Homo sapiens: one gene and its partners. The protein of the gene in region 3 purifies or fractionates together with the protein of the main gene of each other region. This does not show direct contact. Each region holds a gene or a part of one and is shown on either strand. Other genes may lie near its edges. The genes, in order: CAND2, POMT2, CD244, TSPOAP1, PDXDC1, IMMT and CARD19.

Region 1 (4,008 bases), on a different chromosome or scaffold from region 3:
TAGCTGGGATTACAGGTGCCTGCCATCATACCCGGCTCATTTTTGTATTTTTAGTAGAGACAGGGTTTCACCGTGTTGGCCAGGCTGGTCTTGAACTCCTGACCTCAGGTGATCCACCTGCCTTGGCCTCCCAAAGTGCTGGGATTACAGGCGAGAGCCACCGCACCTGGCCCAGCACCCCCATTTTATAGCTGAGGATGAGAAGACTTGTCCACACTCACACACCCAGGGAATAGCAGGGCCAGGATTTGAACCTGAGGCAGGTGAGCTCCAAAACCTCTCTCTACTGGGCTGCCCTGCCTAGATGTGGGCTGAGACTCCAGTGTGGCCCAGTGAGGGGCTGCAGGCTCCAAGCTCTGAAGGGGCGAGGGCTCTGCCTTCCTAGGAAAAACCCAGTGGTCCTGCCGAGCCCCAGAGGGAGGTCTCAGTTCCTCTCCTCCCAGTGAAGGCTGCTTGGGCTCCTCAGGCCAGAAGGCCCCTCAGACAGAGGGCGATCTAGTGGACAGGCGGGGCCGGGGGGAGCACTCTTCCCTGCCCCACTTTGGGGCCCGCAAAAGCTAAGGCATGTGAGAGGCTGGTGGTTTTCCATTCCCAAGAGTCTATATGTTGATGAAGCATCTTCTCCCTCAGTTGCCCATGGGCTTCCAGGACAACTCTAGAAAATGCAGATAATAAGAGTTTCTCACGCCCATTTGACAGATGAGGAAAGCGAGGCTTAGAGGTGTGATGGGCATGCCACACCCACCCATGATTGAGTGGCAGTAGGAAGGCAGGGATGTGAACCCAGGCCTTTTAACTGGAGGGCCAGGCCCTGCTGCCCATCATGGGCACACCTCCCGGGTCTCCCATTGCCCTTGGCTATTGGGTAGTAAACATCAGCCCAAGCTCAAGGACTGGGTGGGGGCACTGAACAAGGTGGAGGGGCAAGAGGTAGGTGCTCACCGATGAAGCTCTTCAGGAGGGGGTCAATGGGATGGGGCTGGTCCGAGATAAGGAACTTGACCGCTGTGATGACGGTGCTCCGGGTGTGTGGCCGACCTGCAGGACAAGAAGAGGTGAGTTAGTGAGGGGCAGGGGCCAATCCTGGAGGCTCACAGATCAGAAGGTGCTTAGGCTCCTCCCCCTGCTTCCCTGGAAAACAGAACTGTACCCCCTCCCCATCTCTGGGAAAGTGGATTCTACCATTTCCCTTGGCAGCCTTGAATCTCCCCTCAATTCTTCCTGCTGCAGCTGAAACAGTAGGACTGCCAGTGCTCAGGTAACACCACAGGCTGCAAACAGGGAACCAATAACCAAGACAGGAACTGCTCCAACAAAGACCTTCCCTCAGGCCTTGGGATTTTTCAGACATGTTATCTCAATGAGTCCTAACAATGATCCTATTAATAATAAAGTAGTATTAAAAGAACCAATAAAATCACCAATAAAAATCATCTCTTTGACATATGAGGAAAGAGAGACTCAGAGGGTTTAAGTTCATGTCTAGGGCCACACAGCAGATCCAGAATTCCTGGCTGGGCCCCTCTTCCTGGGGCTGCGTTCTGGCTGGTGGTCAGGGAGGCCTAACAGAACTCGGATCACCTCCAGGCTCGGTCACAGAGAGCTTGCTTACTTGTGCTTTGCCGCTTGCTTTCTGAGTAGAGAAGCCCAGTAAAGAGGGGAAGTACATTCCCTTAATGAAGGAAACGAATGGGTGGACGCTCCACCTGCGTCTGAATCTCTCCTCAGTGGCTCGCCCCCTTTGCTCCCTGCCCAACCCCAGCACAATGCAGTGAATGGGCTAAGGTGTTTCCACCCCACAGGCTTTATGTTCAGCCTCGAGGAAAAGTTTACCATTTGGTGCTAAGGCATGAATGAATGGAAGAGTTACTGAATTCAGACTTTCAGCTTTTACCTCTTTCCCTTGCCAGCCTGACTGGCTCCCAGGAAGATTTAGGGTGGCTGATGAAGACAGGCACAAGAGAGTAAGATTAAGTGAACTGAAAACAAGAACAAGGCCAAGGACGACTGAAGGCAGGGAGGTGAGAAGGAGACTAGCAGGAAGATGTACAGAGAGCATCAATAAGGAAGTCCCAGGAACCTACTAGAAGCAGACCACTCATCTGGCTCTAAGCTTCCCAGCAGTTGGTGCTAAAAAGGAAATGTGACCGGGTGGCTGGTTCAACAGTGCACGTGAGATAGAAACAAATAGGTGTTTAGGCAAAGCAGGGCTCCTCTGCATCTTAACACTCTCGTCTCTCAAGGTTGTGTGATGTAATAGACAGTGTCCTCAACAATGTTCTTCCATCCAGTCCTGAGGCCAGACAACTGCTTCTTACGAACCCAGCAACCCAAGAAGGCCTTAACTGAAATCACTAACCTACCTAGTAACAACAGCAGCTCTTGATTTACTCAGTATTAATTACTGTAGGTACCACATAGGTTACCAAACACTGTACCTGCATTCTGTCAAGCAGAGCATCCACTGGTTCTGTAAGGGGCCAGCTGGCCAGCTCGAAGCCCACTGGCCTTTCATTCTGGGAACTCTCATTTTCCTAGGAGCCTGATGACCCTACCTGTCTGCTTTCCACCTCCTGAAGCTAAGACACCTGGTGTGCCAAAACACGACAAGCCAAAACGCCTGCCCCTCCTGGTTCTTGCCCAGCCCTCTCCAAGCCTCGGGGGCATGTCAGCCTGTCCCCGTCTATACTGACGTCTGCTCTTGGCTCAGGCTAGCCGAAAGAGCTGACCCTCTGCAGGCTGCAGTCTACGGCTACTGGGAAAACTGTTTTTGTTGACCTCTGTGTGGAGCACTAAGCTACTGTCCACATCAAGGATTATGAAGTTGGCATCATGAGGTTTTTTGTTTTGTTTTTTTTTTTGGTAGAGGCAGGGTCTCACCATGTTGCCCAGGCTGGTCTCAAACTCCTAGGCTCAAGTGATCCACCCACCTCAGCCTCCCCAAAGTGCTGGGATTACAGACATGTGCCACCATGCCTAGCCAACATCATGAGATTTTTAAATGTATTTGTTGTAGGGACCAATCAAGGACTCTGTCCCTTCTATCCCACAGTCCCATAGGAGGAAGGCTTTAAGTCTCAGGTATCACTGTGTGTTCCTCTGTAGCTTCCTTGCCTCTGTCGTATAGATACCGTGATTCTTGTATCCAGTGACTTGAAATAGCTCACTCTGCCCCAGCTGCCTGGATGCTCAGTGGCAAACTGCCCACCTCCGAGGTGGGCTGCCTTGCCCACACCTGTGTGCCTACCTGCAGCAAGCTGCTTCCGCAAGCGGGGCAGAAGGAACGAAGGGTTCACAAGGACCAGCTTCCCAATGCACTCGGCCACCACCCCCCGGGTGCCCTCCTCAGCACCCTCGCAGCGCTGGAACAGCAAGGCCCAGATGTCCTCGGCGTAGGGCTTCAGGCTGTCAGGCTGGGCGGCCCCCAGGGCCTCCCTGAGTGAGTGCAGCAGCAGGTACTGTCGTCGGGGCTCAGCCTCGATCTGCTCCAGCAGGAAGGGCAGGAAGTCGGGCAGGCTGCCAGCACCCACACGGCCCAGTGCATACGAGGCTGCAGCCCTCACATCCTCACTGGGTGACCCCAAAGCTTCCAGGAGCACCGCCTTCAGCTCCCGCTGGTGGCCTGGCCCAGCCACCTGACCCACCTCAGCCAGCGACAAGAATGCCAGGACCTTGACCCCCGTGCTGGAGTGGGGCGACCTGGCATCGCAGACCAGGCGACTGGCTGTGCTTGCCGCCTCTTGGGGACAGGCAGCTGAGAGGGCTGCCACACACCGGGCCAATGAGTGGAACACCTGCTTGTGCAGGCCAGGCCCACCATCCACAGCCTGCTCATAAACAGGCGCAGTGAGCAGGCTGATGAGTTTGGCATAGTCCACACACGGGGGACGGGTCCCTACCAGGGCCTGCAGGAAGCCTTCAGCAGCTGCCAGAACCCCGGCTGGCAACAGGGGCGAACGCAGCAGCCGCAGCAGCTCTGAGAGCACAGGGCCACTGACCTCCACCAAA
Region 2 (4,008 bases), on a different chromosome or scaffold from region 3:
TCTGACTGACAGGCACATGTTCAAAAGAGCTATGTCATCAGGCCACAGTGACAGCTACAAGCAGAGAGTCAGAAAGGAAGTGACCCAGAGATGCTTAATGTCAACTTATCACCTCCCAATGCGCAAAAATGACAAAATTTGAATTTTTAAAATTTAATCTGGTGAAATAAGTCAACTATATGTACTGAGTACTGCTTACATAATCACTTCCAGGGAAGTCCACTTGACAATGGCTTACCAGGGGAAAAATAACAAGTGCTACACCTCCCTGCAATGCTGTGGGTAGAGTGATAATCACATATCTGGCTTGAGATAGTGATTCTTAAACATTATTCCTGCAGAACACAGGTTTTCCATAAGCCAGAATAAGGGGGTCTTCCACTAAACAGCAGGACTACAGCAGGGGAAAATTTAAGCTAGTGAGTAGAATTTTCTCAATTTAAAGATTTCTTCTCTGAATTTTTCTTAAACCTTTGATGCTACAACTGCTGTCAGCTACTAATGATAGAGAGTGCAAACAATGTCTTAGAAAACCTTAAAAAGAATCAATCATGCCCTGCCTAAGCAGTTTCTGTCCAGGAATATGAGTGGGCTCGTGGCTGGGATTTCATGCTGCATATAAACAACACACTCAAATTAGCTATCCATCCTAACTGATCCTGATTTCATATGATGGAATGAACTATCAGTATCTCATGATCTTCAACCAAGAGCACTATGATTTTCAGGGGCTCTGCCACTTGGGCAGATTCACAAATCACTTAGAGGTGAAGGAGTGTAGTGGTAACTAGCAGTAACTCTAAAAGCCTACCAGCCTGGCTCTGAGGGCTGGATCTACCTCTTACACTTAGCTGTGTGACCCTGGGCAAGTTCCCTGACCTCTTTGTATGTCAGTTCCCTCTCCTGTAACTGGGAATGATGGCAACCTCCATATGATTGTAATAAGTATCAGATGAGTATAGTGCTTAGCGTAGTGCCTGGCACATGAGCTGTACAAGCAGTCACTGGTATCACCATCATCACCACCATCCTCATTCTGTGGTGAGGGAAATGCCTTTGAGGATCACAGAAAACCGTAGTAAAGATGCTTTCAAATTCCTCCACAAGGGGGAATGGATCTGTAGCATGGCATTGACTTGTGATCCAAATTCATGGCTGCCCAAAAGCTCTTAGAGACGCCATGAAATGAGAAGGGGACACATACCCGGATCATGACCATGTGGGATTCCAGCAAGATCTCAGGAAAACTGGGCTGTAGCACATCCAGGCTGATGTTTGGCACTAGGGGAAAAAAATGCAGGAGAAAAGCCTTTGTCATACATTCTTTCCTCAGTCTGTCCATGGTGTCCACATTCCCACCAGAATCCAAATGCAGCCTTGCTGACAAGTTCACAACTGTTGAGGAGACAGAAGAAAGCTTGGCCCAATTCTTGATCATTTACTTAGCTGTATGAAGAACTCATCAGGCATTCTAAGAAATGCAAAGGAAATAGACAACAAGGTTTCACCTGCTTGGTGCTCCAACAGCTCCCAGCACCATTGCTTTTCACTGTGGTACTGGCTCAAATGCTGCTCTCCTATTAGGCATAAGGGACAGCTGCACAGCCCCCGAGTCACTGTGGCCCTTTGAAGGGCCTGGGAATGAGGAATAAATCATTCTGGACGCCTGGAGCAGCTGCTGTCGGGATGGGGACCAAGTCTGTCTCCTCGCCAATATGTCCACAGGGCCCCATGTGGTTCCTGGCATACTTGATAAAGAGTTGTTGAATTAGTTGATTAGTGGGTTTGGCTAGATTAGGTGGGAAGAAGAACAAAATGAAGGCACACATAAGCTTGAGGTGGGTAGTTTAGGAAAACAGATGATGAATCCAAATACTTATTGAGTTGAAGCTGACAACGCAGTGGAAATATCAAATTGGAGCTTGGGTGTAGAGATGTGGGGCACAGATCAGGGCTGTGGCAGTCACTTTCTATAAAAGCATTGGCTGGATATGTGGGGGGGCGGGGGAGCGACTCTACACTGAGGCATAAAGGGAAAGTAGCAGCTTGCTCCAAGCCTGGAGGCTGGGGAGGTGCCCATGGTGCAGGGGAGAGAGGAGCCCAGAGGAAGACGAGACAGATGGATCTGCAGATGGCCACTGGCCACTTTAGGGAGAGGAGTTTACGGAGGGAGTGGATGAGAAGGAAAAGGAGTATGCTATGTAGGTACAGACAACTCATAGAAAGAGAGTGTTAACAAGGAACAAACAGCAGCAAGTTGAAGGGATAGCACAGTTTACAAACGCTTACTTTTCTAAGATAAGGGTTTCTTATAAATGCTTCCCTCCAGAGCCAGCCCAGAAAGTGACCTCACTCACACTTGGGATTGATATGGTCCTCCACATTCCAGATGGAGTTGAGGGTTTCTTTCAGGTATGGGGTGCAAGTAACTTCCAACTGCTCCCAGCCCCTGTGAAAAGCAGAAGTCACAGATGTCTCTCAGAAGACGTGAAATCCACCAGAGAGTGACACTGTCTTCTGCTCTTAAATCCACAGGCTCCTTCTCTTTTCCACATGGTGGCCATTATTTCTTCATGTTCCATGTTGGACAACTATCCTAGGATAGTCTAGCATACAGTATTCCCATTTTAGAAAAAGACATAGACCCAGAGAGTTATTAGCACCAGCCAGATGTGAAAATGTTGAACTATCAGAACACATAAAACACCGAAGCTCCCCCGGAGTTCTGTGCTCCATAATACACCTGATATCTACTCTCCCTCCATCTGCCACTAAGAACAAGCAGACAGCAGGTGAACACAGGAAAACAAAAGCTTCTGGCATACTCCTTGTAGAGTGAAAGGAAAATCAGGACCCTCGATTGGGACAGCAAAACCCTAGAGACTTACCACTTGGGCAGAACCTTTCCCGAGGAGCCCAGGACACAACCTGTGACCAAATGGATGAAGCGAATTCGACTTCTCAGCACTTTGATCCGGTTTCCAAATTTCCTGTTTACGACCTCAATCCGCCAGAAATCATTTGAGTCCCCTGTTCCATTCTGCCATAAAAGCCAAGAAAAAAATACAAAGAAAGTGAGGGGACTTTAGAGAAAACGTGTCAGAAAGGGAAATGGCCACCCAGATGCCACCATGTTATGAAGGTCAAAGACCAAATTAGGCTCAATGATAGAGATGGGCAAGGTTACAAGAAGGCCAAAGAAATATCCCAGGTGATTGGCATTGTCCCAAAACTCACTATTACAACCAAAAAACAGTAGTATGACTCCTGGAACCAGAAGTCCAGGAGTCCAACTCTTCACTTCATAGAACTAGAGTTCAAGTTCTAAATACCTGTCTTTGCCCTTCAACCAAACTCAAGACATCACTCTGAGCCAACAGAAACAGATCTGGGCCATTTGCATCCATTACCTTGGCTATCTAGGTATTCACTCATCTAAGCCAGAAAGGTCTGGCCTGGCTATTGCACTTTGGAAATTAAGACATGTATGTCTAATTCTTCTCAGAAGATGCCCACAAAGAAGATTAGAATGTTCACAGTCTTGACCTAGCACAATGTGGAATGAGCAAACAGAAAGAGGGCTGGGAAATCCACCTGAAGGCCAGAATCTGTATACAGTTTTCCACTAGTAGTTTTTGTCTTCAGTTACTCCCAAAGCCATAAGTACTCATAGAGCTTTTATTTATTAGCTGCATCTCCTTGAGGTAGTAAAATACAAAAGCTATGGATAATATCCCTCTGCAGAACAGGGAAATGATACTTAAAAATAAAGCTAATGAGAATTTGGGATCTGGCAAAAGATAAACATACATGTTGTTCATCTGGGGTCATATTGTGGGTCCTTGGCTTCTATGTCCAATGTGATTTTAAAAGAGATCCAAATAGTATTCATATTTGACATTTATTAAGTATCAGAGCATGTAAATGGCATGGTTATTATGTGAGGAGAGAGATGGAGACAAACAGACTTCATAGGCTGCTTTTCCCAGAGCAGGCCTAGCCAAAAAG
Region 3 (4,008 bases):
GTTGTTTGTTTTGTGAAGGGAATTTAGTTTTCCCCCACTCTGGCTATTTTACGATTTTTCTATTTATCTTTGGTTTCCATAATTTTTTTGATGTATTGAGAGGTTGTCTTTTGTTCATTGGTTTGTTTTTTTTCTTTTTTTTTTTTTGAGACAGAGTTTCACTCTTGTTGCCCAGGTTGGAGTGCAGTGGCGTGATCTCGGCTCACTGCAACCTCCACCTCCTGGATTCAAGTGATTCTCCTGCCTCAGCCTCCCAAGTAGCTGGGATTACAGGTGTGCACCACCATACTTGGCTAATTTTTGCATTTTTAGCAGAGATGGGATTTTGTCATATTGGCCAGGCTGGTCTCAAACTCCTGACGTCAGGTGATCCATCCACCTGGGCCTCCCAAAGTGCTGGGATTACAGGCGTGAGCCACCGTGCCCAGCTTGTCGGTTTGTTTTGATCTTGCTTGGGGTTTGTAACACATTTTACAAATCTATCTTGATGGCTTTTGTCAGTTTTGGGAAATTCTTATCTTTTATCTCTTTTGCTTAGTTCCTCTTTCCTCTCTCGTCTCCTTGCTTTCCAATTACACTTAGTTTAGGGGTTTTGTTTTGTTTTTGCTATATCTCAAATATCTTTTACACTCCTTCTTGTGTATTTTTATCCTTTTGTTTTTCTTTACTTCACTCTGGATATTTTATAACAGTTTTCTAATTCTCTTTTCAATGGCATCTAAATGGCCTTTTTAACCTTTCAATTGAGTTTGTTTTACAGTTATTTTACATTTTATTTCTGTAATTTTCATTGAATTCTTTAAAAAAAATCCAATTTCAGGTAACTATTGCTGCATAATGACCTACTCCAAAATCCAGTAGTTTAAAACAACTACCTATTTAGTTAGTGATTCTGCTAGTTGGCAATTTGGGCTGGGCTCAGCTAGGTGGTTCTTTTGGTTTCCTCTTGCATCAGTCATGCATGTGTGGTCAGCTGCCAGACTGGCCACGGGTGGCTGATTCATTTATTTATTTTTTATTGTTTTTTGAGATTAGGTCTTGCTCTGTCATGCAGGCTAGAGTGCAGTGGCATGATATCTCGGCTCACTGCAAGCTCCATCTCCCGGGTTCAAGCAGTTCTCGTGCCTCAGACTCCCAAGTAGCTGGGGTTACAAGTGTGTGCCACCATGTCTGGCTAATTTTTGTATCGTTAGTAGAGACGAGGTTTTACCATGTTGGCCAGGGTGGTCTCGAACTCCCGACCTTGAGTGATCTGCCGGCCTTGGCCTCCCAAAGTGCTGGAATTACGGGCATGAGCCACCGCACCAGGCCAGGGCTAGCTGATTTAGAATGGCCTTAGCTGTGTTGGCTTATCTCTGTATCATGTGATATCTTATTCTCCAGCAGGCTATTTTAGGCTTGTTCACAGGTCAGCCAGATGAGGTTCCAAGAGAACAAGTAGAAATGTGCAATGCCTTTTCAGATCTAGGCTTAGAACTAGCAGAACATCATTTTTGCTGCGTTTCATCATGAAGACCAGCCCAGTTCCAAGAGACAGGGAAATGAACCCCATTTCTTGATAACAGAAGGAGCTGTAAAGTCACATTGCAAGGACATGGTATTTTTGCATTCTATCACGCTAGTTCTCTGCTGAAATTCTTAAACTTATGTTTTATTTCCTTGAACATATTAGACATGATTACTTTAAAGTTTATGACTGACAACTCTATTATGTAGATGCCCTGTTTGTTGGTTTCTGTTGTCTCTATTCTTCTGTTGGTTTTTGGAGATGTTTCCTTTTCTTATACTTCACTTTGGATATTGTGTATGAAACATTCTAGGAATAATTTAATGCTCTGGTTGATGTTATTTTCCTCTAGTCATAACTTATATTTGCCTCTAGTTGGCAGCCAGGTTAGGGCTACCAGAGATTCCAGATCATTAGTTCAATCCAGGGTTGTGATGATTCAAAATTGAGCTTCAGTTCCTGTGAGGGCTGTTCATTTCTCGTTCACTCTTACTCTTTGGGTATAGCCCTCTGTGGTACCAACCTCAACACTGATGGATTTTATGTATACCCGCTTTCTAATAGGAGGGACGTGAACTTCATGTTCTCTTAGTTCCTTGAGTTTTATTGTGAGCTCTGCTCAGCTTCTCAGCCTTTTAGCTGCCATTTATGGAATCAGAAGATGCCTCCAGGGAACAACAGTCAGAAATGCTGATCTCACCTCTCTGAATTTCCTTCTTCCAGATATTGGCCCCATAATTTTTCACTGCTTTATAAACTCTCTGATAACTTTAACAATGTGCTTTTACATGTTGTTCATTTTTCTTCTAGCTATTTTTAGTGGGAGGATTGGTTAGCATGTCTTAACCTGGATTTTCATTACATAATTAGAATTCCTTCGATGATTTTTTATCTCAACAATTAAGGGGATGCTGTAGAATGAAAGTGTTCTGTTTCCAGATCACAAACTCTCTGGAGTCAGGAATCATGCCTTATACATGAAGAGGCCCTGCCTCTTCAGGGGCTGGATTGCAGTGGGACTCAGTAAGGACTGAATAATTGATGAAGACAGTATATGTCCTCCTTGTAGGTTTAGTAATGATTTTTTCCATTCACCTTTGTTCTCAGGGTCTTTGTGCAATATTTGGTAGGTTGACTTGTTCTTATAAATAGTGCTAGGATCGTAGGAGACAGAGACACAGAGATGCACAGCACAGTCTCTGCTTTTGAGAAGCTTTTGGTTTGCTAATGGGCAGAGCCAGTACAAGTCATATAAATATAAATGGGAACCTATGTGTTTTAGTCTTAGGAGCATCAAGATCAAAGAAACATATTTCATCAAACAAATAGTATTACAAGTCCTTTAATTATTTACTTAGTCTCTTGAGAAAATGCCAGGGTGAAGCTGTGGCTTGGAGAGACTGCATTCATAATGCACTGGACATATAAAAACCCCTCTGTCTCAATTGCTCTCTTCTTAATAGCCTCCATTTTAACGGAGCCACTTGTAAAACTCTCCCCATCTCTTATTTTCTCTTCCAAATCCTCCCTGAGCCTCCCCAACTCACCCAGAGAGACTTTTTAATTTCCTGCACCTGCTGGGCCATGCCACATAGCTTTATTACTAAAAATGGCTGTAGGAACTTCCAGTTTTGTACACTGACTGCACAGAATTGCTCTAGGTTGTCACACCCCCATATTCATTAGGTTTCATCTTGATTCTTTGAGAGGCAAGTGCTGGGATCTGCCTGGGAAGTGTAGTTTTATTTTTAAAATTGTTTTCTAGGGAGAAATTTTTGTGGAGACTTTCTGATCACTGAAAAACTGGCAAACATCAATAAGTAATGACCAAAATCCAATGAACCAAGTGCCACGAGAGAGGATTATGTATTCAGCTCTGTGAGAGGATGGTTGAGGGGCCATGAGTTCAGCTTGGACGGTTAGTCTTCCTGGGCCTGACCATTCAGAATTTCCAACAGTCACTACTTGCCATTAGTAGTTGCCTCAGCACTGCTTGGAGGGAGTCACCTTAGATGTGGTATTTATAGCATCATGGTTAAGAATTTATCCTCTCAAGCCAAACTGCTGTCTTTACAAAGAGTAAACAAATAAGCTCCCTAGCACCTGTGCTCCCAGCTACTAGGGAGGTTGAGATGGGAGGATCACCTCAAGCCCAGGAGTTCAAGGCTGCAGTGAGCTGTGATTGCGCCACTGCACTCCAGCCTGGGTGACAGAGTGAGACCCTGTCTCTAGAAAACAAAACAAAAGAAAACAAAAACATAACACCAAACTGACTAGGTTTCAGGCTCATCATTCTTTTAACTCATCATACCTTTTAACTTAAATAGTTAAAATGTATAAAGTGTGAAACCTGCCTGTCACATAGTAAGTACTCAAGATTTTAGCTATTGGTCTATGGGATCCCTCAGACTAGGGACACAGAGCTTGGGGACAAGGGGAGGCAGATGGAGGGGATATGCTTTAAGGTGCTCCTAGGTTCTGGGCTCCTCATACTCATCCCC
Region 4 (4,008 bases), on a different chromosome or scaffold from region 3:
CTCATCTCAGGGTATAGAGCTGGAGTGGGGGCAGGGATGAGACCCATCACAGTGGCAGCCCCAAATTAGCAGCATCCTTTGATCCTAAACTCAGATGTAGAGTTAATCCTTTCCAACTGCTGGGATGGGGTAGAGTGAGGCTGCTGGTTTTCTGAGACCCCAGTCAAGGTGGAAGCAGGTGGCTACCCCCCTAGGTTTTCATGCTAACTCCTCCTTTGGGAGGAGATGAGGAGTGGGAGAAGTGCCCCAGCCCTCAGGTGACCATTGGCCTTACCCCTCCTCTGGCTAGGTGAGTGCCCCCTTGCCCCGGCCGGGGACCAGCTTGGAGTTGTGTCGGAAGGCCCTAGCCCGCCAGCGAGCCCGGGACCTCAGTGAGACAGCCAGTGCACTGCTGGCCAAGGACAAGCAGATTGCTGCCTTGCAGCGGGAGTGCAGGGAGCTGCAGGCCAGGCTCACTCTGGTGGGCAAGGTGCGAGGAGGCCCTGGTCACCTCTTCCAGCTCAGCCCTGCACAGGGCCATCTGCCTGTTGTGGGATGCAGACAAGATGTTAATGAGACGCAAATGAAAGGGAGGGTGGAGGTTGCTGGGAGTAGGTTCCCCTGGCAACGGCCCAGGTGGGAGAGGGGAGAAGGGGGTGGAGCCATGAGTCCCAGACCTGGGCATTTCTGTGCTCCAGGCTTGAGGCTGTTTGCCGGTGGGTCTGGCTGTATGCATCCACACATCCCCTGTGTGAAGGGATGTTCACAAGGTATTTAGCACAGTGCTGGGCACATTGAGAGCACCCAAGAAATAAGTTACTGAGAATGACCGCATAGGGGCTCGCGGGAGCATGTGGCCACATACGCATGCACATGTAACCAGGCATGTACCCATGGGAGGGTGTGCACAGTCTCGCGCATCGGAGCCCCTCCAGCAAGGCGAAGGGCTCTGCAGGGGATGGCATGGGGCGGGCAAGGATTAGGCCTGAGTCCCCTCCCTGTCCCTGTCCCCCAACCTCAGGAGGGTCCCCAGTGGCTCCACGTGCGGGACTTCGATCGGCTGCTGCGCGAGTCCCAGCGGGAGGTGCTGCGGCTGCAGAGGCAGATCGCGCTGCGCAACCAGCGGGAGACGCTCCCGCTCCCGCCGTCCTGGCCCCCGGGCCCTGCTCTCCAGGCCAGAGCAGGGGCGCCTGCTCCCGGGGCCCCGGGAGAGGTGAGCGCCGGCGCAAGGGCAGGTGTGTGGGTGCGTGCAGATGGGTGGGGGGAACGACCACCGGGATCTCCCCTGCACCGTGCTCAGAACCCCAAGGACTCAGTGGTGGTGTGCGCACTCCCAGGGGCTGGGGAGCTTTCCCGTCCTGGGCAGGGTCCACCTCCAAGCCTCCCGTGCTCGTACCTGCGCCGTGCCCTCCCCTGGGGGCTCCAGGGTTCCGCCCTCCATAGGCCTGCGCCCAGCGGGGCCTGGCCGGCCGCCCCTGCCGCGCTGCCAGTGGTACGGCCCGGCCGCAAATCCCTGGTTGTCCTGGCAGCCGCCCGGGGCCCAGCCCGCGCCGCCTCCTCCCGCCGCCGCCGTAGAGCGGGGACGCCCCCGTCAGCGCCCGCCTGGCTGGCCAGGCCTGGCCCCAGCTACCCGGGGGCGGCGGTGCGTCCGCCCCGGCTCCAGGTACAGGCAACCCTCACTGAGCGGGGGGCTTAGGCAGCCCCTGTCTCGAGGGCCAGGGACCCGCTTAGGACCCCCAGAACTTAAGGGTCTGGCTTCTCGCCATCATCCTAGGTAGGCAGCAAGTAGGTCCTCCTCCTTCTGGGAAGAGGGCTGGGAGGAGAGACCAGGCAGTGATCTGATAGTGACCAAGACCTCCGGGTGGGGGGAGGCTTCTTGCTCAGATTTTGTCTCCCTGGCTGGCCCTGGAAGGGAGATGCACCCTCCCATCAAGACCTGTCCTCCCCCAAAGTTTGCACGGATAATCGGAAGGTGTGGTAGGGTGGGCTTGGGGGAAGCCAGGAGAAGGGTCTGGCTGGACTTGCGCTGCTCTAGGCCAAGCCCAGATTTGGATGATACAGAACCCCTATCTTGGGGAACACCACATCCCCGGGGGCCCAGGCAGCCTCCTAGTTCTCTGCCAGTCGCTGAAGGACACCCAGGACAGTTATTGAGTGCAGAGCAGGGCTGCTGCTGGAAGCTAAAAAGGGAAAGCTTTGGCCTGGATAAAGGACCCATCTCCCAGGGCACACGTGGGTCCCAGGATCTCAAAGCACTTATGGCTCCAGGACACAGGGGTGCAGCCTTTGTACTTACACATCAGCTGGAGACAATGGGAGGTGGGTGGGCAGACAGTACCCCTCTTTGCTCTTGCTAGGCAGGGATCTCTTGCTGGCTGAATGATGGGGTGGGAACCTGCTCTGGGCAGGCTGGGCTGGGGCAGGCTGCCCTGGGGCCCTGTTCTCAGGTGCCAGCCCCTTGCCCCTGGGCATTTCCAGGCCACGCCCCAGGAGGATGCGGACAACCTACCCGTGATTCTAGGGGAGCCAGAGAAAGAGCAGAGGGTGCAGCAGCTGGTAAGTCCTAGGTCAAGGGCTGGAGGCAGCCTGCTGTGGGCAGATGTACCTTCCCTCATGAGGAGCACTTGGTTCTGACCCCTCAGGAATCGGAGCTCAGCAAGAAGCGGAAGAAATGCGAGAGCCTGGAGCAGGAAGCCCGGAAAAAGCAGAGGCGATGTGAGGAGCTGGTGAGCTCTTGAGGGCAACCCAGAGGCCAGCTCCTCCCTTCACCCCGGCCAGCCAGGTGGTGGGCTCCCTCTCAGCTCTGCTCCCACCCCTGCTGCCCTCAAGAACACATTTTCCCTCCTGCTCCTTTCCTTTCCTGGCTGGTGCAGGTTCCAGCAGGGGAGGAAGGCCTTGCCTGGGAGGAGGGCAGGGTCCTCTGTGTGGGGAGAGGGGGAATGTGGGTGCTGGGCTCCCTCCTGAGAGCTCCTCTGCCCGCTCAGGAACTGCAGCTGAGACAAGCGCAGAATGAGAATGCCCGCCTGGTGGAGGAGAACTCCCGGCTCAGTGGGAGAGCCACAGAGAAGGAGCAGGTACCACTTCCGCCCAGGTGCTGTGGAGACCTGTGCTCCCACCACTGCCCCGGTCCCCAGCCAAGGGGCTTTCTCCTCCACCCCTGAGCAGGGGTAGGGTACTGTTCCCCCTGTGAGGGTGCTGGTGGGTCAAGGCTCACCCACCCAACTCCCTGTCACTGCCCCCTCGCCAGGTGGAGTGGGAGAATGCGGAGCTGAGGGGCCAGCTCCTGGGGGTGACACAGGAGAGGGACTCAGCCCTTCGCAAGAGCCAGGGCCTGCAGAGCAAGCTGGAGAGCCTGGAGCAAGTGCTGAAGGTGAGGAGATGGTGCAGGTGGGAGAGGGTGCTGGGCCCTGGCATGGGGAGCAAGTGGGACAGCAGAATATTCTTAGTGAGGGGCACTAGCTCTGAGGCCTGGGCCTGGAGCTGCTCCAGGCTCAGTTTCCTTTGTAATAGAGGAATCTGGAGCAAATGGTGTTTGAGGCTTCCTCATCTTAGATCTTCTCTAGAAATGGCCAAGTAGGGGCTCTGGCCTTGACTCAGATCTTGTGTTTCAGCACATGCGGGAGGTGGCCCAGCGGCGGCAGCAGCTGGAGGTGGAGCATGAACAGGCTCGGCTCAGCCTACGGGAGAAGCAGGAGGAGGTCCGGAGACTGCAGCAGGTGGGGCGGCAGTGAGGGAAGCTGGCAGGCTGCTGGACACCAGCTTTGCCACTCACTCATTCCACAAGCATTTACTGTGTGCCCGGCACTGTGCTAGGCGTCGGGGAGACTGTGGGGAACAAAGACCAGGTCCCTGAGCAGTCAGCAAATTAGCATCCAGGAGTGAGCTGATTTCAGACACTGATGAGCACAGTGGTGGAGAAGAACAGGGTGATGTGACAAAGTGACTGGGATGGGGTGAGGAGCCACTTTAGAGGTCATCAGGGAAGGCCTCCCTGAGGAGGTGACAATTGACCTTGCCAGCCAGGAGGTG
Region 5 (4,008 bases), on a different chromosome or scaffold from region 3:
TGGGAAGATCACTTGAGCCCAGGAGGTCAAGGCTGCAGTGAGCCATGATCGCACCACTGCACTCCAGCCTGGGTGACAGAGCAAGACCCTGTCTCAACAACAACAAAAAAGGAATTCATGTGATGACTTTTTTTTTTTTTTTTTTTTTTTTTGAGATGGAGTCTCCTCTGTCCCCCAGGCTGGAGTGCAGTGGTGTAATCTCAGCTCACTGCAACCTCGGCCTCCCAGGTTCAAGTGATTCTCCTGCCTCAGCCTCCCAAGTAGCTGGGACTGCAGGTGTGTACCACCATGCCTGGCTAATTTTTTGTATTCTTAGTAGGGGCGGGATTTCACTATGTTGGCCAGGCTGGTCTCGAACTCCTGACCTCAGATGATCTGCCTGCCTTGGCCTCCCAAGGTGCTGGGATTACAGGTGTGAGCCACCATGCCCGGCCAATTCAGGTGACTTCTGAATTCTCATTCTGATTCTGGTAAGTTACATGGGAATGCTAATCTACCTAAATTTAGCCCAAAAGAAAAGAAAATGCCCCTCCAAAAAGAGCTGCTAATAACTCTAGGAGAATGGAGTATCATAAGGGCAAGCTAATCTACCCAGCAGCCCCAGAACAAAAGCAAGGGATGTCCACCAAGCCTGGTTTACCTGCTGCGGTCATCAAAGGGCTGAACCGCAAACACGTGCCCTCAGCTTCCAGATCCATGACTGTGAGGCCGCTTGCAGGCACCAGCTGCTTCAGCTGTTCTCCCAGCTGTGAGGAGGACACAATGAACACCCTCCTGTAACAAGGGACTCAGACGTCTTCAGGACCCACCCTCATCCCCTCGGCCCCAGACCAAAGAGCCTCCTGGAGAGCTGATTCCTGCTCTTTTGACTGTCTGATTACTTAGAGCAGCTTTTTAAAAACAGTAAATTTTATGGTTTTTTCTTATTAATACAAGTTCATTGTAGAAAAATTTAGGAAATACAAGTAAACAAAAAGAAGAAAATAACAATGACCCACAATATATTACTAAGCGACACCCACTGCTGACATGTGGTCTGCCCCCAGCGTCTTTTCTCCTAGTGGCGGGCAGGGAGTTGTAGTTGTTGTCATAAAACATGCTACTTGACACTGCTTAGTAACCTGCATTGATTCATTTCGTTTATGACCAGTTCCTTTCTGCTTGAGACACTCAGCTCTGTGGTCTCTCACAGCTGTGCTGAGCCCCAGCATGGATGTACCAGGACTTATCTGCCAACCCTGCTAGGCTGGGCGTGTCCAGCATTGGCTAGAACTGCTGCTGCCGCCATCCCACACTGTTCACAAGACCCTTCAGACTCAAATCCTAGAGCTGCTATTCAGTGCCCAAAACGCTATCAAAGTGCAGGCCTGGCTCCACACTGCCAGCTGCAGATGCTCGGCAGACTCTGCCTGGGGCTCCCGGCTGTGCTGCCCAGGCTCACCAGAACCCACCGCAGCTGCCCTGCAGCCCACCTTTTGCCTGTTGTCTCACAGCCTTATACAGCAGCAAGGAAAGTGAGGGAGCAATGCCAGAAGGACTTGCCAGAGGTGACCCAGCTCGTGAGGTGGTAACGCAATGGGGAACAGAACTCCAGAGCAGGCCCAGCACTGGCAGGGCGGCTCCTCCTGTGGGCCTCAGTTCCCATACACGAGCACGCGTCACCCTCACCAGCAGGTCGGATGGTGATGGACGGGGACCTGAAAGGAAAGGGGGGTGACTGCCATTCTCACCCAGCGATTCAGCGCGTCACACGAGTGCCTCTCCCGGCCGACTCCTGAAGGTGTCATGTTGGGCACTGGGACGGCTTTAAACACCGGATCTGACACCAAAACACAGAAAGGGAGTCACTCCCAGAAACACGGCTGACCAAAAAAAACACCCTCCAAACCCCACATCATTCCCATCCCAATATTAGCCCCAGGGCACTGACTCGTATTACTGAATTCTCATGTATTATCTGACAGAAGGGCTACATTTCTTTTTCCTCGTGATCTATGTAACACTTGAATACATTCACATAAGACAGAATTATTAATTTCATTTTTGAAAAGGTTTGCTTTCAAGGGATTTCAAGGGGAAACAGCAATTGTTTTAAGTTACTAACTAGTTTACCAAGCACCGTGCGAGGTCTGTGAGTGCCACGATCATCTAACTAGGCCTCACAGTGGGTGCCAACCCGTGCCAGGCACAGAGCCCGACACTTGGGACAGAAGGCAGGTAAGGTTTCTGTCATCTTGGAGCTTACATTTTAGTTGAGGAAACAGACCATAAAGAAAGAAAATCACTCCATGTGGTTGTTAGTGTCACAAGTGAAGCTGGGGGCTCTGATAGAAAATGATGGAGTCCCCTCAGGCACGATAGGCAGGGAAGGCTGAGGATGTGGATACTTAGTGGAGACCGAAATGGTGAGGAGGAGCTGGCACCAGAAGAGAGAAATGTGTGTAAGACAGAGGGAACGCCGAGTGTTAAGCCCTTGCGGTAGGAAAGGGCAGAGTGTTCTGGAGCGCGGAGAAGACTGGTCTGACTGAGGCACAACGAACAAGAGGGAGAGTGGAAGGGGGGAAGGCAGAAGCGAATTCGGGGCAGAGTGTGCAGGCCTCATGGGGCATGGGAGAGCCTGGCCTTTGTTCGACCGAAATGGTAAGATACCCAGGGGCTCTGGGCAGGGAAGTGACACTGATACGGGAGTGCTGGGAAGGGAAGAGCGTGGTCCCTTTAAATGACACAGAAGCGGGGAAGGGAAGTGCTGGGGAGAGAAAGGCGGGTCCCTGGCTAGGACTCTACCCCCACGGACCTAGGTGAGGACAAGCACTCCTGCCTTCCCCCAAATGTTGCATTTCCCAAGACCACGCTGGCCCACCACACCACCATCCTGGGCCTATAAAAACCTGAGACCCTAGTGGGCAGACAGAAGTGGCTGGATGGCCAGAGGAACACATTGGTGGAAAAAGACACAAGCGGCTGGTCATGGAGAGCAGGCCGGCAGAAGAGCACCCCGACAGGCCCCGGCAAGCCAGCAGGCCATCAACCACGGGGACGAGGCGGAGTTTGGCCAGGGCCGCTGAGCGGCCCAACTCCAAGGGAAATCTGTCTCCCTTCTGGCTCCCCCATCAGCGGAGAGCTACTTTCATTCAATAAAACCTTGCACTCATTCTCCAAGCCCACATGTGATCCCATTCTTCCGGTACACCAAGACAAGAACCTGGGATACATTAATCCCTCTGTCCTTGTGATAAGGAAGGGGGTCTAAGTGAGCTAAAACAAGCTGCCTACAGACGGCTAAATTAAAAGAGCACACTGTAACACATGCCCGCTGGAGCCTTAGGAGCTGTAAAACATTCACCCCCAGATGCTGCCATGGGGTCGGAGCCCCACAGCCTGCCCGTCTGTATGCTCTCCTAGAGGTCTGAGCAGCAGCGGGGCACTGAAGAAGCGAGCCACACCCCCATCACATGCCCTGCGAGGGGGACAAGGGAACCTTTCCGGTTTCAACACCATGTGACTTCCACTTATAACCCTCTCTGCCAGGTGGAGAATGGTCTGGAATGGGCTGTGTAGAATGTATGAAAGTCAGAGGTCAGTTGACAGGGGACAATGGCCAACCAGGTAAAAAAAGAGTGGTGCCCTGGACTAGACTGGTGGCACTTGGGTCATTCTTTAAGATACAGATTCCTGGGCACAACCTATTGACTCAAAATATGTGGGAAGTAAGACCCACAAATCTTTATGTTCAAGCAACTCTTTCTTAGCCATTCCAGCACTGGTCCAGGGACTGGCATTTGGGAACCCCTGGTTTAATCACCGCAAACTATCAGCAAATTGCTAAGGCGTTTCGGACTGTAGTTTTCATGAAAATTATTACATTTTTCTGAAATGCTGACTGAAGATTGTCAGCAATAAAAATATTTTGAACTATTTAACTTGAAATGGTATCAAATTCAAAGCCTTTAACACAGATATGAAAATAACCCTCTTTTAAAATTCACCGACCTGAGCCTGGTAATTCCT
Region 6 (4,008 bases), on a different chromosome or scaffold from region 3:
TCTCCAAAAAAAAAGAATGTTCTATGTAAAATTTTGCAAAGTATATCTTATGATGCGAAAAATAAAGTTGATGTTTCAGTGAATTCCCACTTTAGTCATTTTTTTTTTTTTTTTTTTTTTGAGATGGAGTTTCATTCTTGTTGCCCAGGCTGGAGTGCAATGGCTCGATCTTGGCTCACCACAACCTCCACCTCCCAGGTTCAAGCGATTCTCCTGCGTCAGTCTCCCGAGTAGCTGGGATTACAGGCATGGGCCACCATGCCCAGCTAATTTTATATTTTTAGTAGAAACGGGGTTTCTCCATGTTGGTCAGGCTGGTCTCGAACTCCTGACCTCAAATGATCCACCAGCCTCAGCCTCCCACAGTGCTGGGATTACAGGTATGAGCCACCACGCCTGGACCGCTTTAGTCATCTTGAAAATAAAATACATCAAGAATGTATACTGATTTGGGGCCAGGCATGGTGGCTTACGCCTATAATCCCAGCACTTTTGGGAGGTGGAGGCAGGTAGATCACTTGAGGTCATGAGTTCGAGACCAGCCTGGCCAACATAGTGAAACCCTCTCTGTACGAAAAATACAAAAATTAGCCAGGTGTGGTGGTGGGCACCTGTAATTTCAGCTACTTGAGAGGCTAAGGCAGGAGAATTGCTTGAACCTGGGAGGCAGAGGTTGCAGTGAGCAGAGATCACGCCACTGCACTACAGCCTGGTGACAGAGCAAGACTCTGTCTCAAAAAAAAAAAAAAAGGAATGGATGCTGAGTTGGGCCACATGAACTGACCCAAATAGAATTACAAAGCATGTAAATGTCAATGACATATCTGGGGGCCAAAATTTATCACCCTTGTTGAAGGTACTCCTGCTTACAGAAGTCCAAGGAAAACCTACCCTGTAACAGACACAGATTCCCCTACAACCAAACTAAATCCTAGTATTACCAAATCCAACTCTTCACAAACACTGCTTTGTGAAAGTTATTCAGTATATATTAGAAATTACATGTGCACCTGTAGCTTCTTGTACTAGAAAAAACAAAAGCTGGAATTCATTCTTAACATTCCAAAATGTGTTCATACATTTTTCCAATTATTTTGTACATTAGCTAATACTCTCATCTGTTAACTGCTACCATTAGATTGTAAAATCTTGACTGCAATAGATTTTACACTGTCTAATCACCATGTGCTACACATTATGTGCGTTAGGAAGATGAAATACCACCTTGTGTACCCTTATACCCAAGTAGTAACATGGCATTTAAAGCTTCCAATCCGTGTCCTTCTGAGGGATACTGGTCTACTTGGGTTTGAACCCAACACCCTTACATCACGCAACTTCTAGCCTTCCCATATCGGTAACCAGCAAATTAAATTTCCTGGGTGGTTTCCACTTTGCTGACTGAACTCTGATATTTAAGTATTTTTCTTGGACTTTGAATAAAATGGAATTTTCCTTAAAATTTCAAAGGTTGTAGTTTCTTGCTACTAACATCAGAGGTCTAATTAAACTCTTTTGTAATATAAGTACATACGACTGAAACAATGTAAAGTGTGTGTAAAATTTTTTTTAAAACTACAATTATGATGGCAAAGTAACTTTACTGACCATGTATGATCCTGATCCTTAAGATTAATAATTTATGCATTTTACTTTAATTTACTCCTTAAATGACTTGGAATAGAGATACATTTATACATACTGAATAACTTAATGTAATTATAAAATAATGTATTAAGTCCCAGTATTAAATTTTGAAAAATCAATGTTATTACTTCATTCTTTGAAGTGTTTCGCATAAATAATCATAAACATTTAAAATAGCAGGTGTTTCAGGGAACATGAGAGCTCTCTGTATTATTTCTTAAAACTGCATGTGAAGTTTGAGAAGTATCTTAAAAAGTTTACCTATGGAAATAGCAATTTTAAAGCAAACAACAAAAATATTTAAGTGCTATTAAAATATGAAAGCAAATCTGAACTAATTCTTGCGCTGCATCGGTGTTGTAAGATATAGTAAAGCACAATGTATAAAATTCATTCTAAAAAACTTAAAGGCTTTTTTCAGTTTGTTTTTTAAACATAATTACTCTAAGGCCAAGCACAGTGGCTCACGCCTGTAATCCCAACATTTTGGGAGGCCGAGGCAGGCAAATCACTTGAGGTCAAGAGTTCCAGTCCAGCCTGGCCAAAATGGCAAACCCTGTCTCTACTAAAAGTACAAAAATTAGCCGGGTATGGTGGCGGGAGCCTGTAATCCCAGCTACTCGGGAGGCTGAGGCAGGAGAATCGCTTGAACCTGGGAGGTGGAGGTTGCAATGAGCCGAGATCGCACCACTGGACTCCAGCCCGGGCGACAGAGCAAGACTCCGTCTCAAAACAATAACAAAAAAAGATTAATTATTCCAGACTATCTTCCCCTAGTGAGAGAAAGCCGATATCATACGGAAGAAAGCAGTCTGTTAAATATTACACTTCTCTCCACCCTCGATTTTTCTTTTTGTCCTCCAAGTCATGACAGCCAGAACACTTCTAATCATTCATTGGGCTCACCTCAGAATTGTCCATGGCGGCTTTCAATATGTTGGAGTGTGCATTGACAGCCTGGACCGCAGCATTCTGAGCTGCAATAGCCTGCAGAGTGACACTTGCAGTTTGCCTCAGAGCATCTTCTAAGCTCTTGGCTAGAGCTTAAAAAAAAAAAAGAACAGTTAAAAAACAAATCCTACCCCCATAAATGACTTTAAACTTTTGCTGTTCTCCTATCTAGTCTTCCATTGCATTTCCCAAAAAATTTAAAAAGGAACAAAATACATGAGACTCAAATTTAGGGAATCAAAGTTTCACTTAAAAGTATGGTAAAGGCCGGGCGCAGTGGCTCATGCCTGTAATCCCAGCACTTTGGGAGGCCGAGGCGGGCGTATCACAAGGTCAGGAGTTTGAGACCAACCTGACCAATGTGGTGAAACCCCGTCTCTACTAAAAATACAAAAATTAGCCAGGCATGGTGGCGGGTGCCTGTAGTTCCAGCTACCTGGGAGGCTGAGGCAGGAGAATCGCTTGAACCTGGGAGGTGGAGCTTGCAGTGAGCCGAGATCATGCCACTGCACTCTAGCCTGGGCGACAGAGCGAGACTCTCTCAAAAAAAAAAAAGAAAACATGGTAAAATACTGATAATTTAGTCTGGATGATAAATCTATGAAGCTTTATTACACTTCTTTTTTTTTTTTTTTTTGAGACAGAGTCTCGCTCTGTCGCCCAGGCTGGAGTGCAGTGGCGCGATCTCGGCTCACTGCAAGCTCCGCCTCCCGGGTTCACGCCATTCTCCTACCTCAGCCTCCCGAGTAGCTGGGACTACAGGTGCATACCACCACGCCCAGCTAATTTTTTTGTATTTCTTAGTAGAGACGGGGTTTCACCATGTTAGCCAGGATAGTCTCCATCTACTGACCCCATGATCCGCCCACCCTGGACTCCCAAAGTGCTGGGATTACAGGCGTGAGCCACCGTGCCCGGTTTTTTGTTTTTTGTTTTTTTTTTTTTTTTTGGAGACGGAGTCCCACTCTATCGCCCAGGCTAGAGTGCAGTGGCACCGTCTCAGTTCACTGCAACCTCCGCCTCCTGGGTTCAGGCGATTCTCCTGCCTCAGCCTCCTGAGTAGCTGGGACTACAGGTGCCTGCCACCACGCTCAGCTAATATTTTGTATTTTTAGCAGACAGGGTTTCACCGTGTTAGCCAGGATGGTCTCGATCTCCTGACCTCGTGATCCATCCACCTCAGCCTCTCAAAGTGCTGGGATTACAGGCGTGAGCCACCGTGCCCAGCCTACTTTTTCTTTTCTGTATATCTAAACTTTTTCAAAATAAAAAGTGTTTTTTTTTTTCAAAATTATTTAAAGAAGGGTAATGTATTTCAAATGGGAGAAACAAGGTTTAGGACACTATAGCCCCTTTTACATATTGTGGCTATAAACTCAACAAATCCATCAGCTTTCTTCATTTTAAACA
Region 7 (4,008 bases), on a different chromosome or scaffold from region 3:
CTCATGATCCATCTGCCTCGGCCTCCCAAAGTGCTGGGATTATAGGCGTGAGCCACCGCGTCCGGCCTGCAGAACTCTTTAGTGAGCACCTACTGGGTGCTCAGCCAAGTGGGCAATGCTGGAGAGGACAGCCTTGGGCGTGCTTTTGGACTGGCAGGGAGTAGACTGCTGTAGCTGATTACAGTGAATTTCCATGTTAATTAGAGAGGCAGAACGTCTGAATATCAAGAGGTGGTCCTCAACATGGCTGTGCCTGGGCCTGGATCTTGATCTGTCACTTCATATCTGGTTGCAGTCTTGGGCAGGTACCTTATCTTCTCACTGTGCCTTAGTTTCCCTACCTGAAAATGGGGCTGGTGGTTGTCCTTATGTTGCAAAGCTGTTGGAAGGATGAAGGTTGTAGGTGACGTAGGGCTCACAGAGTGCCAGACATATGGGATTGCTCTGTGAATTTTGGCTAATTCATCTTAGTTCTTTAACGAGAGGGCTGCAGGCGCTGGACCCAGACTGCCCAGCTGGGCCTGTCCATGTGGCCTTGGCAGGTCACTTGACGTCCCTGTGCTCAGCTTCCTCACCATGATGGGGCTGCTGGCAAGTCCGCATAGGCTGCTGTGGGACTCAGTGCAGGTGAGGGCTGAGCCAGCCTTTCCAGCCCCCAGCCATCTGCCTCCCTGCGCGGCCCACGGTGAGTGGCTTCAGCCAGATGATGGAGTGGCTGATGGCCTCAATGTGGGCATCATCAGGGGCCCTGTGAACCAGGATGGCCCCCCTATTGTTCTCTGGAGGGCAGGTATCTCTGGGGTTAAGGATACGTTTGTGGGTTTGCTTGGTGAATGCCAGCCCGCACCCCTACACTGTGAGCCCCTGGAGGATGGATCTGCCCATCACCGTGGTCCCCAGCCCCGCACAGGGCGAGCGTACTGAGACGGGCTGTTCTCACCTGGGCCTCAGTCTGTAGGGTCTGCACAGGGCCCCACGGAGCATGGCTGCTTTTGGGGTGGGTCCACATTCTGGGGTACAGAAAGACCAGCCAGGAGGAAGTGGCAACTGGAAAGAGACATGACAAAGTAAAACAGTCTGTTGAGTCTGTGCCTCAAGGAGTGAACCCAAGAGGGGGCCCCACTGTGTTCAACATGATGACACTGTTTTTGTTTTTGTTTTTGGTTTTTTCTTTGAGACAGAGTCTCACTGTTGCCTGGGCTGGAGTGCAGTGGCGCACTCTCGGCTCACTGCAACCTCCGCCTCCCAGGTTAAACGATTCACCTGCCTTGGCCTCCCAAAGTGCTGGGATGACAGGCGTGAGCCACCGCGCCCAGCCTTCATTTCTTTTTAGCACTGAATAATATTCGTTGTATGGATAAACCAGAGTTTATTTATCCATTTACATTTTTTGTGAGAAAATATATGGAAACATAACATTTACCTTCTTACCCATTTTTTCAGTGTACACTTCAGTGATACTAAATACACTCACAGTGTTGTGTAGTCATCACCACTGGCCATTTCCAGAACTTCTTTATCATCCCAAACAGAAATTTTGTACCCGTTAAACAATAACTCCCCTTTCTCCTTCTGCCCACACCTCCTGGTAATCTGTATTCTATTTTCTGTCTCTATGAATTTGACCCCTCTAAGTACTTCATATAATTGGAATCATATAATATTTGTCCGTTTGTGCCTTGTTTATTGCACTTAGCATAATGTTTTCAAGGTTCGTCCATGTTGTAACATCCACGTATCATAATTTCCTTCCTTTTTAGGGCTGAGTAATATTCCATTGTACATAGGTATATACCACATTTTGATAATTCATTCGTCTTTTGGTGAACATTTGCACTATTTCCATCTTTTGGCTATTTTGAATAGTGCTGCTATGAAAACCAGTGTGCAAGTATCCATTTGAGTTCCTGCATTTATTTATTTATTTATTTATTTATTTGAGACAGAGTCTCACTTTGTTGCCCAGGCTGGAGTACAGTGGTGTGATCTTGGCTTAGTGCAACCTCCGCCTCCTGGGTTCAAGTGATTCTCGTGCCTCAGCCCCCTGAGTAGCTGGCACTACAGGCGAGTGCCACCACGCCTGGCTAGCTTTTTGTATTTTTAGTAGAGACGGGGCTTCGCCATGTTGGCCATGCTGGTCTTGAGCTTCTGACCCCAAGCGATCTGCCCACCTCAGCCTCCCAAAGTGCTGGGATGACAGGTGTGAGCCACCACCCTCGACTGAGTTCCTGCTTTTTGTTTTCTAGGGTACATACCTAGAAGTAGAATTTCTGGATCACACGGTAATTCTTTTTTTTTTTTTTGAGACGGAGTCTCACTGTCGCCCAGGCTGGAGTGCAGTGGCATGATCTTGGCTCACTGCAACCTCTACCGTCCGGGTTGAAGCGATTCTCCTGCCTCAGCCTCCCAAGTAGCTGGGATTACAGGTACCCGCCATCACACCCAGCTAATTTTTGTATTTTTAGTAGAGACTGTGTTTCACCATGTTAGTCAGGATGGTCTCGATCTCCTGACTGCATGATCTGCCTGCCTCTGCCTCCCAAAGTGCTGGGATTACAGGTGTGAGCCACCGTGCCGGCCATCACAGGATAATTCTATGTTTAGATTTTTGAGGACCTGCCATACTGTTTTTTTCCACAGTGGCTGCACTATTTTACATTTTCACCACTAATGCCAAAGAGTTTGAATTTCTCCATATCCTCACCAACATTTGTTATATTAATATATAGCTATCCTAATGAGTACGAAGTGATATCTCATTGTGGTTTTTATTTGAATTTCCTTAATGACTAATGATGAGCATTTTTTTTTTTTTTTTAATTTGAGACCAAGTCTCGCTCTGTTTCCCAGACTGGAGTGCAGTGGCGCCATCTCGGCTAACTGCAACTTCCACCTCCTGGGTTCAAGCAATTCTCCTGCCTCAGCCTCCCAAGTAGTTGGGATTACAGGCACGCACCACCATGCCCGACTAATTTTTGTATTTTTAGTAGAGACAGGGTTTCTCCATGTTGGCCAGGCTGGTCTCGAACCCCTGACCTTAGGTGACCTCAGGTCATCTGCTCCCCTTAGCCTCCCAAAGTGCTGGGATTACAGGTGTGAGCCACTGCACCTGGCCTGATGAGCATTTTTTTGTGTGCTTGATGGCTAGTTGTATATTTTCTTTAGAGAAATGTCTATTCAAGTTCTTTGCCTATTTTTGAATTGGGTTCTCTGTGTCTTTTGCTGTTCAGTTGTAGGAGTTCTTTATGGAGTAAGGATACTAATCCCTTATGAGATATATGCATTGCAAATATTTCTTCCATTTATGTGAACTGTTTTTTCACTTTCTTTTTTTCCACTCTTTTAATTAAAAATAGGGTTTAATTCTAGACTCTCTTATTCTATGCCAGTGACCCATATGTGTGTCTTTATGATAGTACCACATTGTTTTCATTATTGTATATTTTTACACTAAGTTTGGAAAGCAGGAAATATGAATCCTCCAACCCTGTTGTTGTTTTTTTTTTTTTTTAAGATTTTTGTTGTTGGCTATACAGGTATCTTGAAATTCTATATGAGTTTTGGGGTGGGTTTTTCTATTTCTGCAAAAAACACTTAAGATTTTGATAGGGATTGCATCGAATCTGTAGATTGCTCTGGGTAGTGCTTGCAGCAATGTTTTGTGGCTTTCAGTGTACAAGATTTTTGCCTTCTTGATTAAATTTTTTCCTAAGTATTTTATTCTTTTCAATGCTATTATAAATTGAGTTGTTTTCTTAATTTTTGGATTGTTCATTGTTAGTATGTAGAGATGAAATATTTTTGTGTGTTGATTTTATATCTTGCAACCTTGCTGCATGCTTTTAATTAGCTCTAACTTTAAAGAAAAAGATTTTAGGGTTTTCTATATATAAAATCATGTCATCTGTGAACAGAGAAAATTTTACTTCTTCCTTTACAATTTGGATGCCTTTTATTCCCTTTTCCTTTTTTTGCCTAATTGCTCTAGTTAGGACTGCTAGTACTATG

What was found.
Region 1: the proteins of CD244 (region 3) and CAND2 purify together in Homo sapiens (affinity purification with mass spectrometry; 3 studies listed by BioGRID and IntAct, with this or other methods). This does not show direct contact.
Region 2: the proteins of CD244 (region 3) and POMT2 purify together in Homo sapiens (affinity purification with mass spectrometry; 3 studies listed by BioGRID and IntAct, with this or other methods). This does not show direct contact.
Region 4: the proteins of CD244 (region 3) and TSPOAP1 purify together in Homo sapiens (affinity purification with mass spectrometry; 3 studies listed by BioGRID and IntAct, with this or other methods). This does not show direct contact.
Region 5: the proteins of CD244 (region 3) and PDXDC1 purify together in Homo sapiens (affinity purification with mass spectrometry; 3 studies listed by BioGRID and IntAct, with this or other methods). This does not show direct contact.
Region 6: the proteins of CD244 (region 3) and IMMT purify together in Homo sapiens (affinity purification with mass spectrometry; 3 studies listed by BioGRID and IntAct, with this or other methods). This does not show direct contact.
Region 7: the proteins of CD244 (region 3) and CARD19 purify together in Homo sapiens (affinity purification with mass spectrometry; 4 studies listed by BioGRID and IntAct, with this or other methods). This does not show direct contact.

The regions. Positions count from the first base shown.
Region 1 is NC_000003.12:12,817,116-12,821,123, reverse strand, and holds part of CAND2 (cullin-associated NEDD8-dissociated protein 2), read right to left. Parts: coding exon 3,248-4,008; intron 1,039-3,247; coding exon 943-1,038; intron 1-942.
Region 2 is NC_000014.9:77,282,593-77,286,600, forward strand, and holds part of POMT2 (protein O-mannosyl-transferase 2), read right to left. Parts: intron 3,041-4,008; coding exon 2,889-3,040; intron 2,450-2,888; coding exon 2,358-2,449; intron 1,282-2,357; coding exon 1,205-1,281; intron 1-1,204. UniProt on the Homo sapiens protein: Transfers mannosyl residues to the hydroxyl group of serine or threonine residues. Coexpression of both POMT1 and POMT2 is necessary for enzyme activity, expression of either POMT1 or POMT2 alone is insufficient.
Region 3 is NC_000001.11:160,841,996-160,846,003, reverse strand, and holds part of CD244 (natural killer cell receptor 2B4 isoform 1 precursor), read left to right. Parts: intron 1-4,008. UniProt on the Homo sapiens protein: Heterophilic receptor of the signaling lymphocytic activation molecule (SLAM) family; its ligand is CD48.
Region 4 is NC_000017.11:58,321,995-58,326,002, reverse strand, and holds part of TSPOAP1 (peripheral-type benzodiazepine receptor-associated protein 1), read left to right. Parts: intron 1-274; exon of another isoform or gene 275-289; coding exon 290-469; exon of another isoform or gene 470-553; intron 554-1,000; coding exon 1,001-1,192; intron 1,193-2,457; coding exon 2,458-2,535; intron 2,536-2,621; coding exon 2,622-2,705; intron 2,706-2,963; coding exon 2,964-3,053; intron 3,054-3,226; coding exon 3,227-3,349; intron 3,350-3,590; coding exon 3,591-3,695; intron 3,696-4,008. UniProt on the Homo sapiens protein: Required for synaptic transmission regulation. It probably controls the recruitement of voltage-gated calcium channels to the presynaptic membrane, and modulates neurotransmitter release.
Region 5 is NC_000016.10:15,026,689-15,030,696, reverse strand, and holds part of PDXDC1 (pyridoxal-dependent decarboxylase domain-containing protein 1), read right to left. Parts: coding exon 3,991-4,008; intron 1,820-3,990; coding exon 1,731-1,819; coding exon of another isoform or gene 1,665-1,730; exon of another isoform or gene 892-1,664; intron 747-891; coding exon 641-746; intron 1-640.
Region 6 is NC_000002.12:86,163,955-86,167,962, forward strand, and holds part of IMMT (MICOS complex subunit MIC60), read right to left. Parts: intron 2,691-4,008; coding exon 2,554-2,690; intron 1-2,553. UniProt on the Homo sapiens protein: Component of the MICOS complex, a large protein complex of the mitochondrial inner membrane that plays crucial roles in the maintenance of crista junctions, inner membrane architecture, and formation of contact sites to the outer membrane.
Region 7 is NC_000009.12:93,099,157-93,103,164, forward strand, and holds part of CARD19 (caspase recruitment domain-containing protein 19), read left to right. Parts: intron 1-4,008. UniProt on the Homo sapiens protein: Plays a role in inhibiting the effects of BCL10-induced activation of NF-kappa-B. May inhibit the phosphorylation of BCL10 in a CARD-dependent manner.